Regions from separate parts of the Homo sapiens genome. Here all the other regions are linked to region 1. Evidence: fine-mapped expression QTL. A gene starts in region 1. Each other region holds a variant in brackets. All regions are shown on one strand. Distances are from middle to middle.

Region 1 (2,661 bases):
GGTGGCTCACACCTGTAATCTCAGCACTTTGGGAGGCTGAGGTGGGCGGATCACGAGGTCAGGAGATCGAGACCATCCTGGCGAACACGGTGAAACCCCGTCTCTACTAAAAAAATACAAAAAATTAGCCGGGCGTGGTGGCGGGCGCCTGTAGTCCCAGCTACTCGGGAGGCTGAGGCAGGAGAATGGCGTGAACCCAGGAGGCGGAGCTTGCAGTGAGCCGAGATTGTGCCACCGCACTCCAGCCTGGGTGACAGAGCGAGATTCCGTCTCAAAAAACAACAGCAACAAAACAAAACCCTCGAGGGGCCACTCTCCTGTCTTTACTCCTTTTCCCTTCTCTATTCTTTCACCAGAAGCCCTCATTTGACCAGTGAACTCCTAGGCCCTCTTGACCCGCACATTAGCTGGGCGATTTCCTTGTTCTGCTAATTCCTAATTCTGCTTAAAATGTATTTGGATTTCTGTTTTTGAACACTTATGATGCCAGGCACTGTAATGCTTGAAACCCGATCTTTCCCTAGAGAATGTAACATACGTTTTTATTCATTTAATCACTTCATTATGCCGGGGTTAATTATGTTTATTTTATAATTGGTAATAAAGGCCACATTTATTTTTGTAACTGTTTAAAGAGCGACCACCTGTGGAGTACCGTGTTTACGAATTTCCATGCAGAAAGAACAACGTTGACCTGTAATTTGTGTCGAATATATGGAGATCCCTCATCTGAGAATTATGTAACAAAGCGTGGGGCAGTTTACTCAAAGATTTTACGAAATGAGCCAGAGTAAGACGATTAGTGGGATAGGTGTCTGAAGGTGCTGGCGGCCTCTGAGCTCTGACCCTTTGCGGGGAGAACAGGCAGCAGGTGGGTGGGCGCGGGGCCCATTCATAAAAACCAGTGTTCCTGGCCTGCTTCTCTCATTGGCCCTGGGGGCAAGGGGCGTGCCCCGCGGGTGGAGCGCGCCCGGGGCCCAGCAGAGTGGGCAGATCCACGCTTAGGTGGAGCGAGGGGGCGTTCCTTGGCTTTCTAGGCTGGACTTTCTCTTCCCCTTGCTGCGTCCCTCCTCTCCCCCGGGGTGGGCATGGTACGTCCCGCCCTCCTCGCATTCCCGTCCCTCCTTCCCTTCCGGAGCGGTGGCATCGCCGCCATCTTGGCATTCGGGTTGCGGGAAAGAGCCAAACCCTGGCGTTGGGGGGCCCGGGCGGGGAGCCCCTCCCGCGGTCCACAGCGACGCCTGCCCAGCCCTCCTCCCCTTCCGGCTCCGGCACGGGGCCCCGAGGCGTTCGGAGGCCAGGCGGGTTTCTGTCAGGCCCGGGGAGGAGGGGCGGGCGGGGCGGCCGCTGCCTCCCCGGGACGGGCCGTACCACGCGGACGGGGAGGACGGGGCCAGGGGACTGCAGGGCGGCTGCACCGCCCGGGGGCGGGGTGCGGAGCGGGCCGGCGGGCTCCCCGGGGCGGGGCGGGAGGGCGGGGCGTGGGGCGGACGGAACCACCGGGGCGGGGTGGGAGGTAACGGGACGGGCGCGACCATGGCGCGGTGAGGGAGCGGGGGTGGGGATCGGTCCGGGGGAGGCCTGAGGCCGCTGGCTTGTGCGCTGTCTCCGCCGCCCCCCTCTTTCGCCGCCGCCGCCGCCGCCCCGGGCATGTCGTCCAACTGCACCAGCACCACGGCGGTGGCGGTGGCGCCGCTCAGCGCCAGCAAGACCAAGACCAAGAAGAAGCATTTCGTGTGCCAGAAAGTGAAGCTATTCCGGGCCAGCGAGCCGATCCTCAGCGTCCTGATGTGGGGGGTGAACCACACGGTAACCAGCTCCTGCGCGCCCCTCTGAGCGCGGCCCCGCGCGCTCCCACGCCCCCTGCAGCCCTGGGCCCTTGCCCCGCAGGCCCTGCCGGTGACGCCTGCCACCCCTCGCCAAGCCACTTGCACGCCCACCCCACCCTTGCACGCCTTTCGGCCCCGTGTGCACTCCCCGCACGCCACGCGAGGCCTGGTGTCTCTGTGGTCTGCCGTCGCCACCTCCCCTTCCCTCCAGCCCTTCTGGCTTCCTGCGTGTGGCGTGCTCGCTTGGGGCAGCCCATGGAGCGCAAAGGCAAGGCCTCAGTGCAGTGGAGTCGCTTTCATCCCTGCTTCTCCTCCTCCCCCCTCATCCTGTTTGTGAGGGTGTATATTCCCCCTTGTTCCTTACAGCCGGCTGCCAGCTCTGTCAAGTAGCAGTGGTCTGCCCAAATAGTCCTCTCTTTCTGATCGTTTGGTTGTTGTGGCTGCTCAAATTCTTCCATCCTCCAGGCCTCCTTACCTTTGAATGTAGAACTCCACCCTGGGTTTCCTTTTTTTTCCCTCTTGAACAAGATGTATCAACTGGAGAAGCACAGGCTTCCTTGAACCAGACACTTCACCTGGGTCTCTCTGGGTTAGGGAGAAGAAAGAATGGCTATTAACCATTTGAGAGAAGAGGATGCCTGGTTATAAGGAGGGACTATTCATAGTAGAAATAATATGTCTTCCCATAGTTTTTGAAGGTGATCATTTTAAAGATGTTGACTTATCTGTTGTGTGGCTGCAATGTTGTGATGATGCATAGTGATTATGGTCCTAGATAGGAGAGATAGGTCCCCTGGGTCCTTAGGGTGCTTTGAGATTGTTCAACAGCCCC
Region 2 (2,682 bases), 30 kb after region 1:
CTTTTCTCAGCCCCAACATGATAAGGATGGAGCTGAGCCTTGTGTCTGGGGGTTGTAGCAGTGCCCAGCTGCTGTCTGCCCTTCTCCTGCCCCCTCTTCCTTCTTCCCTGCTCTCCTTGTCCCTCCAGGTTCCCCCAAGAAGGAGGTGTATTTCATGGCCATCATTGATATCCTCACGCCATACGATACAAAGAAGAAAGCTGCACATGCTGCCAAAACGGTGAAACACGGGGTGAGTCCTCTCCATCTTCATCCAGGGCCCAGCTGGGTCGGTGCATCTGTGCTTACCCTCAGACCCCAGGGAGGGCAGTCTCAGGCCTCCTGCTCCAAGGAACACACTCCTGTCTCCTTCTTCCCAGGAGAGCAGACTGGAAGAGCAGCCTGCCTGCCTTGCCATGTTCCCTGCCTTCACCCACCTGCTCCCTGCCAGGCTGGGCCCAATTTGTTTATCCCCCAGTTCTCCAGCCCTCGGGGCCAAGCCTGCCAGTGTCTTTCCCCAGGGCCTGCTGGGCCTGTTGTGCATCTTGTTGAAGGGCGAGTAATAGCTTTGTTTCCATGCCCATACTGCTCCCCACAGGCCTGTTTCCCTGTGGGCCTGAAGCCCTGTTCTCCATGTAGTGGCCCCCACAGAGATCCAGAGCCGCGTTGCCACCTCCCCACTGCCTTTCTTCTACTTCGGTGCAGGCCTGGGGTTATAAATCACAGGAGTGGGGCCAGGACAGTTCAGGACTTGTATGCCACTTCCTGAGGTGGTCTGCTCAGTCTTGGTGGGGTTGGGGGTGGTATTCAGCTCTGATACTGAGTAAGAGGCTTCTGAATACCCTGGCTCCCCCCATGTGCAGCCTCCTGATTGGGGCACAGGAACTCAACCTGAATCAGCCTCTTGTGTATTACAGGCAGGGGCCGAGATCTCGACTGTGAACCCTGAGCAGTACTCCAAACGCTTCAACGAGTTTATGTCCAACATCCTGACGTAGTTCTCTTCTACCTTCAGCCAGAGCCAGAGAGCTGGATATGGGGTCGGGGATCGGGAGTTAGGGAGAAGGGTGTATTTGGGCTAGATGGGAGGGTGGGAGCAGAGTCGGGTTTGGGAGGGCTTTAGCAATGAGACTGCAGCCTGTGACACCGAAAGAGACTTTAGCTGAAGAGGAGGGGGATGTGCTGTGTGTG[C/T]ACCTGCTCACAGGATGTAACCCCACCTTCTGCTTACCCTTGATTTTTTCTCCCCATTTGACACCCAGGTTAAAAAGGGGTTCCCTTTTTGGTACCTTGTAACCTTTTAAGATACCTTGGGGCTAGAGATGACTTCGTGGGTTTATTTGGGTTTTGTTTCTGAAATTTCATTGCTCCAGGTTTGCTATTTATAATCATATTTCATCAGCCTACCCACCCTCCCCATCTTTGCTGAGCTCTCAGTTCCCTTCAATTAAAGAGATACCCGGTAGACCCAGCACAAGGGTCCTTCCAGAACCAAGTGCTATGGATGCCAGATTGGAGAGGTCAGACACCTCGCCCTGCTGCATTTGCTCTTGTCTGGATTAACTTTGTAATTTATGGAGTATTGTGCACAACTTCCTCCACCTTTCCCTTGGATTCAAGTGAAAACTGTTGCATTATTCCTCCATCCTGTCTGGAATACACCAGGTCAACACCAGAGATCTCAGATCAGAATCAGAGATCTCAGAGGGGAATAAGTTCATCCTCATGGGATGGTGAGGGGCAGGAAAGCGGCTGGGCTCTTGGACACCTGGTTCTCAGAGAACCCTGTGATGATCACCCAAGCCCCAGGCTGTCTTAGCCCCTGGAGTTCAGAAGTCCTCTCTGTAAAGCCTGCCTCCCACTAGGTCAAGAGGAACTAGAGTACCTTTGGATTTATCAGGACCCTCATGTTTAAATGGTTATTTCCCTTTGGGAAAACTTCAGAAACTGATGTATCAAATGAGGCCCTGTGCCCTCGATCTATTTCCTTCTTCCTTCTGACCTCCTCCCAGGCACTCTTACTTCTAGCCGAACTCTTAGCTCTGGGCAGATCTCCAAGCGCCTGGAGTGCTTTTTAGCAGAGACACCTCGTTAAGCTCCGGGATGACCTTGTAGGAGATCTGTCTCCCTGTGCCTGGAGAGTTACAGCCAGCAAGGTGCCCCCATCTTAGAGTGTGGTGTCCAAACGTGAGGTGGCTTCCTAGTTACATGAGGATGTGATCCAGGAAATCCAGTTTGGAGGCTTGATGTGGGTTTTGACCTGGCCTCAGCCTTGGGGCTGTTTTTCCTTGTTGCCCCGCTCTAGACTTTTAGCAGATCTGCAGCCCACAGGCTTTTTTGGAAGGAGTGGCTTCCTGCAGGTGTTCCACCTGCCTTCGGAGCCTGCCACCCAGGCCCTCAGAACTGAGCCACAGGCTGCTCTGGCCAGGAGAGAAACAGCTCTGTTGTTCTGCATTGGGGGAGGTACATTCCTGCATCTTCTCACCCCCTCAACCAGGAACTGGGGATTTGGGATGAGATATGGTCAGACTTGTAGATAACCCCAAAGATGTGAAGATCGCTTGTGAAACCATTTTGAATGAATAGATTGGTTTCCTGTGGCTCCCTCCAAACCTGGCCAAGCCCAGCTTCCGAAGCAGGAACCAGCACTGTCTCTGTGCCTGACTCACAGCATATAGGTCAGGAAAGAATGGAGACGGCATTCTT
Region 3 (2,682 bases), 45 kb before region 1:
ACAAAAAACAACAACAAAAAAAAAACAAGGCCGGGCATGGTGGCTCACGCCTGTAATCCCAGCACTTTGGGAGGCTGAGATGGGCGGATCACGAGGTCAGGAGTTTAAGACCAGCCCGGCCAGAATGGTGAAACCCCGTCTCTACTAAAAATATAAAAATTAGGCCAGGCGCGGTGGCTCATGCCTGTAATCCCAGCACTTTGGGACGCCAAGGCGGGCGGATCACGAGGTCAAGAGATCGAGACCATCCTAGCTAACACAATGAAACCCTGTCTGTACTAAACAAAATACAAAATATTGGCTGGGCGTGGTGGCGGGCGCCTGTAGTCCCAGCTACTGGGGAGGCTGAGGCAGGAGAATGGCGTTAACCCGGGAGGCGGAGCTTGCAGTGAGCCGAGATCGCACCACTGCACTCCAGCCTGGGCAACAGAGCGAGACTCTGTCTCAAAAAAAATTAAAAAATCAGCTGGGAGTGGTGGCAGGTGCCTGTAACTCCAGCTACTCGGGAGACTGAGACAGAAGAATCACTTGAACCCGGGAGGTGGAGGTTGCAGTGAGCCGAGATCGCGCAATTGCACTCCAGCCTGGGCGACACAGCGAGACTCTGTCTCAAAAAAAAAAAAAAAAAAAAAAACCCAAAAAACAAACAAACAAAAAAAACACCTCCGTCTCTACAAAAAAAATTAGCTGGGTGTGGTTGTGTGTATCTGTACTCCCAGCTACTCTGGGCTGAGGCAGGAGAATGGCTTCAACCCAGGACGCGGTGGCTGCAGTGAGCCTAGATCGCTCCACTGCACTGCAGCCTGCGCGACAGAGCGACACTGTCTCAGAAATAAATAAAATAATAAAATATGTAATTTATATAATTACCTAGATCCAATGCTGTATGTGGAAACTAAAGGAAAAAGAAAAAGAAAATTAGCTGGAGGAAAAATATGGTAATGTGTCCCCCCACCGTTTTGTTATTTTAAAGGAAAGATAAGGCCAGTCCTGGTGGCTCATGGCTCTAATCCTCCCAGCTTGGGAGGCCAAGGTGGGCTGATCACTTGAGCTCAGGAGTTCAAAACCAGTCTGGCCAACACAGCGAAACCCTGTCTCTACAAAAAATACGAAAATTAGCTGGGCCTGGTGGCGTGTGCCTGTAATCCCAGCTAATTGGAGGCTGAGGCAGAAGAATCGCTTGAGTCCGGGAGGCAGAGGTTGCAGTGATTCCGGATCGCAACGCTGCATGCCAGCCTGGGAAATTGGAGTGAAACCATGTCTCGAGGGGAAAAAAACAAGCATAAATAATAGCGGGTGAAAATAACTCGGGTGGGGCTGGGCATGGTGACTCACACCTGTAATCCCAGCACTTTGGCAAGAGGCCAAGGCGAGAGG[A/C]TCACTAGAGGTCAGAATTTTGAGACCAGCCTGGCCAACATGGTGAAACTCCATCTGTACTAAAAAGACAAAAATTACTCACGCCTGTAATCCCAGCACTTTCAGAGACCGAGGCAGGCAAATCACCTGAGGTCAGGAGTTCAAGACCAGCCTGGCAAAACCCTGTATCTAGAAAAATATAAAAATTAGCTAGGCGTGGTGGCGTGCACCTGTAAACCCAGGAGGCAGAGGTTGCAGTGAGCCAAGATCACACCACTGCACTCCGGCCTGGGCAATAGAGCAAGACTCCATCTCAAAAAAAATAATAATAATAATAAAAATACAAAAATTAATGGCCGGGCATGGTCGCTCATGCCTGTAATCCCAGCACTTTGGGAGGCTGAGGCGGGCAGACCACCTGAGGTCAGGAGTTCGAGACCAGCCTGACCAACATGGAGAAACCCCATCTCTACTAAAAATACAAAATTAGCCGGGTGTGGTGGCACATGCCTGTAATCCCAGCTACTAGGGAGGCTGAGGCAGGAGAATCGCTTGAACCTGGGAGGCGGAGGTTGCGGTGAGCCGAGATCGCGCCATTGCACTCCAGCCTGGGCAACAAGAGTGAATCCCTGTCTCAAAAAAAAAAAAAAAAAAATTAGCTGGGTGGCGGGGCAGGATGGCTCACGCCAGTAATCCCAGCACTTTGGTAGGCCGAGGCAGGTGGATCACCTGAGATCAGGAGTTCGAGACCAGCCTGGCCAACATGGTGAAACCCCGGCTCTACTGAAAATACAAAAATTAGCCAGGTGTGGTGGCGTGCGCGTGTGATTCCAGCTACTCAGGAAGCTGAGGCAGGAGAATCGCTTGAACCTGGGAGGCTGCAGTGAGCTGAGATCCTGCCACTGCACTCCAGCCTGGGTGACACAGTGAGACTCCATTTCAAAAAAAAAAAAAAATTTAGTCTGGGGTGGTGACACGGGCATGTAATCTCAGCTATTCAGGATGCTGACACAGGAGAATAGATTGAACCCGGGAGGCAGAGGTTTCAGTGAGCCAAGATCGCACCACTGCACTCCAGCCTGGGTGACACCTAAAAAATATATATATATATTTTTAATATAAATATAAAATATTTAAATATAAAATATACATTTTATATTTATATTAAAATATATATAATAGGCCAGACACAGTGGCTTATGCCTGTAATCCCAGCACTTTGGGAGGCCGAGGTGGGCTGATAATTTGAGGTCAGGAGTTCGAGACCAGCTTGGCCAACATGGCAAAACCCCGTTTCTACTAAAAATACCAAAATTAGCCGGGCTT
Region 4 (2,682 bases), 35 kb after region 1:
GGAGCCTCATCTCTTCCTGGCAGTCATGCGGGCAGGAGGTCCTGAAAGGGAAAACCCATTCAGACAACTGTTCCCCAATCTACCAGCCATCTGCAGGGGTCAGTGACCGTGGCCCTCTCCCTCCTCTAGAATGTGCCACTTATGAAGAGTGCCCCATGGGGAAAAGGAGACTCAGCTGTCCCTTGGCAGCTTGTGCCAGTATCCCAGGGCAGAAGTTTCCACAGGAGCCTCTTGCCCTTGCGCAGAGCCACTGTGAGAGGCGGTGGGAGCCAACACCCTTGGGGGAGGGGGCAGTACTGCTCGGCACATCCCAGCATCAGGTCAGATCATTGAAATTAAAAAATGTGAATTAAGTTCATATCCACCTTTTGGGGAAGCAGGACAAACCACCACCCCACCAAGTGTGTGACTTCTCCATATCCCACTGCAGTTTCCATTTTTTAAATGGGAATTTTCAATCCCCTGTGCTTGTCTAACGTCTGCTTTAAAAAGTTTGAGACCCTGTTACTGTTTGAAAATGCATGCATGTTACGATGAATCTCCAACCTGAGGAAAAAAATAAAACTCAAAAAGCTTTGTGTACATCTGTTATGTGTGAGTCCTTGGGAAATGAACCTTTTTTTTTTCTTCCCAGAATTAAAAAGTTTTGGTCCTAGCTTTAGAGGCAGCTTCGGCTAAATCAATGTATGGCTTGAGTTTGGAGAAAGAATATGGTCAATGACATCCCGCTTTCAGATGCAATTAATAAACAGTGGTTAAAAGCACAGCACCACTGGCTGGGTTTGGTGGCTCACGCCCAGTACTTGGGGAGGCCAAGGCAGGAGGATCACTTGAGCCCAGAAGTTCAGTACCGGTCTGGGTAACATAGTGAGACCCCGTCTCTACAAAACAAGAATTAGCTGGATGTGATGGCACATGTCTGTAGTCCCAGCTACTCAGGAGGCTGAGGCAGGAGGATCACTTGAGCTTGGGAGGTTGAGGCTGCAGTTAGCCATGATTGCACCACAGCACTCCAGCCCTAGCAACAATGAGACTCTTAAGGAAAAAACAAACAAAACACCACAGCACCAGAGCCAATCTGCCTGTTAGCTGTTACTACCATGCAC[A/G]TGGAAGAATGGACAACCCCCCCCCCGCCCCCCCGCCTCCAGCTGTGTAGAACGAACTCTGGCTAGGAGCCACTCACCTGACATAACTTTGAACATGTCACCTCTGTGCACCTCATCTACTGCATCTGGGCATTTAGCTTAAAACCCAGTAGTTCTCAAAGTGTGGTCTTGGACCAGCAGTGTCATTAGCACCTGGGAGTCAGAAATGTAAATTCTCAGGTTCCAACCCAGATCTACTGAATCAAACTTTTAATGAGCCCTCCAGGTGATTGTGATGGGGGCTAACGTTTGGGAACCACTCTGCTATGCAAACTTTCTACTTGCTTATTAGGCCATCTATGTACTGCAGATTGCAAGCTGGAATCACTTGGGGAATTCTGGAAAAGACAGGTACCCAGGCCCCTAAAAGGCCAATTGGAATCTCAAGGGGTGGGATCAAGGTATGTGTTTTAGGAATTCCACAGGTGACTAATGAGCTGGCCAGGTTAAGAAACACTAATCTAGACTACTTATGGGTACTTGACCAAATTTCTACCTGAAGCAATAAAAGATGTAAGGGTTTTCCCGTAGAGTTTGAGTGAAAAGGATTCTAAGCTCTGGCATCAATGGAACATGAGTTTATGTCCTGGCTTTATCACTTATTAAAGTAGACTTGGGTAAGTTATTTAACTGTCCTTCTTCTCCAAACAAGGATAATCTCAACTACCTTGAGTCATTATGATGAATAAATTCTAGATCGTGTAAAGCACTTGTGTGGGGCCTAGCACACAGGGAGCATGCAGCAAGTGACATGTGGATTGTCCCCACTGGCACGCACTGATGGAGTAGAGCACGAGCCAGAAAGCAAGCCGAGGGCCAGGCCACACACACTTGAGTGGCTGGCTGTAGCTGCCCAGCTAGGGCAGAGATCTGCAGGAAAGCATCAAAGACAAAAGCAGGAGTGAAAGACAGGCTATTTTATTTCAAAAAAAGAAAAAAAAGTGGGCTCTGGGAACAGGGTTAGTCCATTCGGGCCTTCAGTGTCCTGGTGGTGATTTTGTCCTTCTCGCTGCAGAGGGAGAAAATCACAAGAAAACATCTCTACCCATCTGGACCGTGACTGTGACTAGCTCTCCTGGCCCTCAGCACCAAGCCCTCAAGCCCTGCGGCAAGGGAGCAGAACAAATAGCTGCCCGCTGCCTCTAGGTGTAACTATCCTGCTCTAGTTCATTCCTGCTAGCTCATCTCCTCCGCCTGTGGTGAGGAAGGAGGGATAGGAACAGAGACCTGGGCCGACTTTCCACAGGTGGAACCACCTCAGGGAGGCTTTCCCAGAAAATGATTCAGGGCCAGACTTCACAGCTCTCAAAAGAAGGGAAGGAGCTTGGCCGGGCGCGGTGGCTCATGCTTGCAATCCCAGCACTTTGGGAGGCCTGAGGCAGGCGGATCACGAGGTCAGGAGTTCAAGACCAGCCTGACCAACATGGTGAAACCCCGTCTCTACTAAAAATACAAAAATTAGCTGGGCATGGTGGCACGTGCCTGTAATCCCAGCTACTCAGGAGGCTGAGGCAGGAGAATCACTTGAACCCAGGAG

Alleles and levels. Positions count from the first base shown, and alleles are read on the strand shown. Sizes are in standard deviations (SD) of each study's normalised expression. Not every link is listed here.
For the expression in whole blood of the gene that starts at base 1,519 in region 1, A is the low allele of the variant in region 3 and C is the other (small effect, 0.19 SD a copy in Lepik 2017).

What was found. PIP is the estimated chance that this variant, and not a neighbour inherited with it, causes the effect.
Region 2: its variant is the best candidate, but not a certain one, in a credible set for the expression of PIP4K2B in blood mononuclear cells (TOPMed, PIP 0.73).
Region 3: its variant is the best candidate, but not a certain one, in a credible set for the expression of PIP4K2B in whole blood (Lepik 2017, PIP 0.87).
Region 4: its variant is the best candidate, but not a certain one, in a credible set for the expression of PIP4K2B in tibial nerve (GTEx, PIP 0.80).

What each region holds. Positions count from the first base shown.
Region 1 is chr17:38,798,414-38,801,074 of GRCh38, reverse strand. It overlaps PIP4K2B (phosphatidylinositol-5-phosphate 4-kinase type 2 beta), which reads left to right and starts at 1,519. Exons shown (of 10, transcript NM_003559.5): 1 at 1,519-1,809. The coding sequence starts at 1,651. CWC25 (CWC25 spliceosome associated protein) reads left to right here. Exons shown (of 10, transcript NM_017748.5): 10 at 1-634. RefSeq lists an enhancer at 1,524-2,342.
Region 2 is chr17:38,767,986-38,770,667 of GRCh38, reverse strand. PIP4K2B (phosphatidylinositol-5-phosphate 4-kinase type 2 beta) reads left to right here. Exons shown (of 10, transcript NM_003559.5): 9 at 129-232; 10 at 897-2,682. The coding sequence ends at 977. Among named protein-coding and RNA genes, the nearest start is that of PSMB3, 17 kb to the right of the region's middle. The variant C/T (reference allele first, on the strand shown) is at 1,171.
Region 3 is chr17:38,843,065-38,845,746 of GRCh38, reverse strand. LOC124903994 (a long non-coding RNA gene) reads right to left here. Exons shown (of 3, transcript XR_007065743.1): 2 at 871-895. Among named protein-coding and RNA genes, the nearest start is that of SPMAP1, 3.0 kb to the right of the region's middle. The variant A/C (reference allele first, on the strand shown) is at 1,378.
Region 4 is chr17:38,763,591-38,766,272 of GRCh38, reverse strand. PSMB3 (proteasome 20S subunit beta 3) reads right to left here. Exons shown (of 6, transcript NM_002795.4): 6 at 2,048-2,154. The coding sequence ends at 2,106. PIP4K2B (phosphatidylinositol-5-phosphate 4-kinase type 2 beta) reads left to right here. Exons shown (of 10, transcript NM_003559.5): 10 at 1-582. Among named protein-coding and RNA genes, the nearest start is that of PSMB3, 12 kb to the right of the region's middle. The variant A/G (reference allele first, on the strand shown) is at 1,107.